Linked DNA regions of Homo sapiens: region 1 is linked to region 2. Evidence: fine-mapped expression QTL. A gene starts in region 2. The other region holds a variant in brackets. All regions are shown on one strand. Distances are between the middles of the regions.

Region 1 (2,812 bases), 26 kb after region 2:
AGCCCCAGATTGTTCAAGTCTTATAGTGAGTTTTTCTTGTGCTCCAGGTTTAGAAGTTTTAAATCTCTTTTATAGTGTATTCAACAGCTTGAGTTAATTTCATAATTATAGGAAAGACATGGTTTGTGTGTTCCTCCTGTAAAGGATACTTTAGAACTCAGACCTGGTTCCTCAGTCAAGGCTGTTTATTTGTGTTTACAGCGCTAACATTTGAAACGTCTTAAACTTGACTGCATATTGTAATTCCTCCCCCCAAACCCCCACCTGGGATGATCCTGTTCCGTGGTGGTTATTCCATGGTGTTACTAGGTGTGGAAGAGAAAATGGGCTTTGGAAATAATGTACGTGAAGAACTTAGCACAGTCCTTGGCACGTAGCAGATGTTCAATAAACATAAAAGTAAATTTTTCCTCTCTTCCTTGGGTTTGAGAGACCTGGGGATGATGATATTGGATGCAGTTTTGGTTGCATGCTCCGTTTTTAAATTAGGGTAATGAGGTCCCCCCCATTCCTCCTCCCACTCAAACTTCCAGCTCTCCAGACATTTCTGTGGTAGATTAAAAATGAAACTCACGTCTTGGTCCTAGAAGTAAAAATAAGGAAAAATTGAGCTCTTCTTCCTGGATCATGTGTTGCCCTTTAAAGGAAGGATGGCACATGCCCTGGAAGAGTGGTACACCATTCAGTACAGAAGAGCAGAGGGTCAAAGGGGACCCTTTCCTGCATCTGTCGAGTAGTCCTGCAGGTGAGGATTTTGGTTGTCGTTGGTTTCACATGTCCAGGTGGAACCAGATGAATTACCTAATTTCTCCTGGCACTGGCTTCTGGGAAGTGGCCCAGATGGTCGAAGCCTGACCATTGGCAGAGTGCTAGCTTTGCTGGGCCGTGCCTCTGAACTGGGATCTGCTAGGAGCAGCCATTTGCCTTCTCCGTCTTGTAGCAGGTTCCATGTGAACAGACGAAAAGGGCATCAAATCTAATGTTCTAGAAAAAATAAGAGCCATCATTGGCTTATTTATGTTCCATAATATTATGGGGCCTGGCATTTTAATAATAATTATGCTCTGGGCCCGGCGCGGTGGCTCACACCTGTAATCCCAGCACTTTGGGAGGCCAGGCGGGCGGATCACGAGGTCAGGAGTTCAAGACCAGCCTGGCCAACGTGGTGAAACCCTGTTTGTACTAAAAATACCAGCTGGGCGTGGTGGTGCGCGCCTGTAATCCCAGCTACTGGGGAGGCTGAGGCAGGAGAATTGCTTAACCGGGAATTGGGAGGTGGAGGTTGCAGTGAGCCAAGATCACGCCACTGCTCTCCAGCCTGGGATACAGAGCGAGACTTCATCTCAAAAAAAAAA[TA/A]ATAATAATAATAATTATTATTATTATTATGCTCTGGATTTACTACTTAGTTGCTTTTTACTTGAGGAAGTGAAAGCTTTTTCATGACCTGTTATCTCATTGATTCTTAATTGTCTCTGAAGTCGTTAAAGTTTAATAGAGTCTATTATTCCCATTTTATAGGCAAAGAAATGGAGGTAACATGATTTGCTTTAAGTTGCAAATGAGTTGGTCCCTGAACTGGGATTTGAATTGGGTTCTTCTTCTTCTTCTTTTTTTGAGACGGAGTCTCTTGCTCTGTCGCGCCCAGTCTGGAGTGCAATGGCGCAGTCTTGGCTCATGCACTCTGCCTCCTGGGTTCGAGCGATTCTTCTGCCTCAGCCTCTCAAGTAGCTGGGACTACAGGCACCTGCCACCACGCCCTGCTAATTTTTTGTATTTTTTAGTAGAGACAGGGTTTCACCGTGTTGGTCAGGCTGGTCTCGAACTCCTGACCTCAGGTGATTCACCCTCCTTGGCCTTCCAAAGTGCTGAGATTACAGGCGTAAGCCACCACACCCGGCCCAGGTTTTCCTTCTTAAGTTTCACTTCACTGAGACCTTTAGGGGGAAAAAATCCACACATCTTTTTCTTTTTTCTTTTCTTTTTTTTTTTTGGAAGCGGAAGGACTTAAAGATACCAGATCATTGTGCTTTTCTGATGACTAGGTAGTGGATGATAGTTAACATTTATTGAGTGTTTATCTGCAGGAATCTGTGCTAGGTGCTGCATAGACATTACCTCATTTATTCCTCACAACAACATTCAAGGTAGAACTTATCATCCCCAGTTTTACGGATGACAAGGTTTTGTGAGGTCCTAGGTCAAGGGAGTGATAGTGAGTGACAAAGCCTTGACTGAAAGCAGGGCTGGGTTCAATCCTGGGCTTTCTGATTCCAGAGTGTGTGCTCCTCCTAACCCGTGTGCTAACGGGCCTTAGGGATGACTAATGGGCAGGCCTGAGAGCCCTGACGCCTGCTGCTGCCACCACCCCAGGTCTGATGGGAGGTGGGGTTGGACGGGCTTTATGTTCTATTGCAGTACAATTTTCACATTCTGGTCTTTTCCTTTGCTAGAAGCATTCATCTAGCCAGGTGGGGGGTCATTACTTTAGAAAAAATAATCAGAGCTGAGAAAACGTCTGCATTTGCAGAGAATGAAGTATTTAATAAGACCAGATGGGCCGGGCGCAGTGGCTCATGCCTGTAATACCAACACTTTGGGAGGTTGAGGTGGGCAGATTGCTTGAGCCCAGTAGTTTGAGAGCAGACTGGGCAACATAGCTAAACCCCATCTCTACAAAAAGTACAAAAATTAGCTGGGCGTGGTGGTGTGTACCTGTGGTCCCAGCTACTCTGGAGGCTGAGGTGGGAGGATTGCCTGCGCTCAGGAGGCCGAGGTTGCAGTGAGCTGAGATCACACCACTGCACTCCAGCAC
Region 2 (2,999 bases):
TAAAATAAAATGAGAAGTAGGAGAAATTATTAGAGATTCTGGACCTTTTAGGGCATTTTTCCCTAATATCCACTCAGGCCGTGCCCAGATGGCCTTGCACCTTCAGCTGTGGCATCAAACAAAACTGGGAATTGCAGCTTTACCACTTATCTCGCTGCATAAGCTTCCACAAGCAAGTTACTTACTGTTTGTGCTTTTAGGTTCTTAATATGTAAAACAATGTTTTACATTAAAAATTAAATGAAATAGCTCCTGAAAAGCCCAGTCACATTGTCAGAGCTCAGTAAAAATGTGTTCCCTTATTCTAGTACTGGGGCAGAACACCTGCAGGTTTGTAGGTGGGGAGACAGTGGACAGAGTGGCTGGGTGATGAAGTGGGGCTCTAGAGGATGAGCAGAGATTGCCTCTGAGCCGACACCCTGGCCCTGTCAGTTCCCGTCCTCACATGATGGACATGAAGGGAACACGAATGAAGCAGATGATGATACGGTTAAGTAAATACCACCTGGGACCAGAGAGAGCCCTTCTCAAGGAGTCGCCAGCCCAGAGTCGGCCCTCTTCTGAGCTGGCCGGCTGGAGTCAATCTGCTTTGGACAACACAGCTTCAGATGGAGATAATACTGAGGCCAATGATCCTTGAAGACAAAATAATCTCTGGGCTTCTTTCTGCTCTGATTATAATGTTGCAATTATACTGAGCAGATGCTGATAGGAATTTGGTCAAATCCATCCCGTCTTCCATCTAACTTATTTTAGTGCCTGGTGGATTTCTGTCCAGCTCCACGGGCTGTGGCAATGCCGGGGCTGGCTGGAAGTGTGGAAGGGGCTGGCTGGAAGTGTGGAAGAGGCTGCCCGGGCTCCGGCATCAAGAGGTTTTCTCCGGTGGGGAGGAGTGCGCGATCTGATCCTTGGAGCGCTTGCAACTGTAGCCCTCCCCCAGGGCTCTGCGCTGATCTCCAGGGTCATCATCATAGTAACAGTAAGAACTTCATTTTATAGCATTTTTCAATCTGTAAGACAACGTCGTGTCCTTTATACCGTTGAAATTTCAATTTCACGACTACTCAGATGTTACGCGACTTGCTCAGTATCCAACACTTGGTTCCTTCACTGGCTCCCGGAGACCTGGGTGCTGAAGCCACTGCAAGGAGGTGTGTGCTCGAACACACAGCGAACACCGACTGCGTGGTTAGCAGGATTCGCTGGGGAAGAGGCCTCAGGAGAGTGCTGGAATTTCCAACCTTCGAGGTGCTAGTAACGTGTGTCGAGGAAGGGGTTGGAGAAGGGGAGAAAATGAAAAGAAGGGGAGAAAATGAAAAGATGGGGAGGAGGAGAAATGGTTTGGGTTTGGTTTTGGCTTGAGCCTCACCCAAGCGTCCCACGCCGCAGCTCCGCGGCCTCCTGGGGGCGCCCGCTCGCGTTGCCACGGCGCTCGCGCGGAGCCGCAGCCCGCCCAGCCAGCAGCGCGCGCTCCTGCAGCCCCGGCGGAGTCCCGGCGGGGAGCGCCCGCGTAGGCAGGCACCCGGGGCAGCCCTCCGTCCTCGCCGCGCGGCCTGAGAACCCCTGGGCCCTGGGCGAGGGGGCTGGGCTGTGCAGCCCCCGAGGCTAACTGGGCGGGATCGCAGCTGCAGGGGTTGTGCGAGCAGCCACGGCGGCACCTGTGCCCTGCGGGCACCCACCCTGCCCCTGCCGAGGCAGGCGCCCACCGCCGGCGGTGATGCGGCTGTGAAGCCCTAGTCGGTGAGTACCCTCCAGTCCCCCTGTGGGCGAGCGAATCTAAATGACAAGGTTATGTGTTTTGCTGGATGTCTTCTAAGAATCATTTATTTAGATTGCTTATGGTGGGGAAGCGTTTCCTTTGTGACATCTTTGTGTTTCTCGGATCTATTTCGTTTCCCTCTAAACGCAGCCCTCTCTCCCCTAGTGGGAAAGACACCCAGTATCCGTGTCTCGATCATCGCACGACACCCACCAGTGCGGATGCCACGTACCACACACTCCCCAGAGCCTGCCAGAGAGCAGGGCTGTCTCCCAGCCACGTCCACCCCATTTTCATTGTGCTTCTATCCCGCAGGCAAAGGAAGAGCGTACCCAGGCACCCCCGAGGTAGGCCAGGTGTCAGGACAGCCAGCAGGCCCTTGGCGAAGCCGGGTCCGCTCTGGCTAGCTCAGCGCGGTGAACCCATGAGCTCATTAGGAGCAGCGGCTGCTTTGCGCGGGGAACGCCGGTTTCCCTGCGGCAGAGGGGCCCTGCACCCGCCCGCGGCGCGCGGTGGTGGCCCAGGACCAGTGGCGCACACGCTTGCGCTCCCAGGCTGCAGGGCGCGCTGCGCCGGCGCAGCTCCCGGGCGTGTGCAACAAAAGGACGGCCAAGTTCATTCCCTCCTGGAAGCAGAGGGCGGGGCCGCATGACTTCTGGAGGCTGCATGTGTCTTAGAATCAAATGGTTATGACTCCATAGCAAAATGCTTTCTGTGTGTCAAGTCCTCTCCGTGCCTGCCAACCCCTTCCCTCCTCTCTCCTCCCTAAAATGCTTTCTTATTGGTCTGGCACTGTGATCAACTATTTAGAATTTTCATTGTAAAGAAATGAAAAAAGGGTGAAACCGAGACAAGCTGTAGGCTGAAAGGCTGGGCCCTGTGGTGCTATTCATTAGCTCTCAGGCCTGGCTGCTGGGGAGATTTTTAGAAATCCTGCTACCTGGGTCCAATCCCTGGAGATTCTGACTTAATTGGTCTGGGATATGGCCCAAACACTGGGATTTTTTAAATTTTCTTTTTGTGGGGAGGAGTGGTGGTGGGAAAATTTGGAGTGCATACTGGATTTTTTTTTTTTAACTTCCCAGGTGATTCTAATGAGCTAAGATGGCCACCCACCATTCTAATCAATCAGGGTGACATTTTTCCAGGTGAACTTGGTAATAGTTCAGTCTCTCAGGCTGCCGTTGGAGGGCAGGGTATGCAACTGTCATAAATGCCTACAAGCTACAGGCAAAGAGAG

The links. PIP is the estimated chance that this variant, and not a neighbour inherited with it, causes the effect.
Region 1: its variant is fine-mapped to the expression of MICAL3 in whole blood (INTERVAL, PIP 0.99).

The regions. Positions count from the first base shown.
Region 1 is chr22:17,997,107-17,999,918 of GRCh38, reverse strand. The region is part of intron 1 of MICAL3 (microtubule associated monooxygenase, calponin and LIM domain containing 3); the gene reads left to right. Among named protein-coding and RNA genes, the nearest start is that of MIR648, 18 kb to the right of the region's middle. The variant TA/A (reference allele first, on the strand shown) is at 1,356.
Region 2 is chr22:18,023,022-18,026,020 of GRCh38, reverse strand. It overlaps MICAL3 (microtubule associated monooxygenase, calponin and LIM domain containing 3), which reads left to right and starts at 1,460. Exons shown (of 32, transcript NM_015241.3): 1 at 1,460-1,740. RefSeq lists a silencer at 1,323-1,732.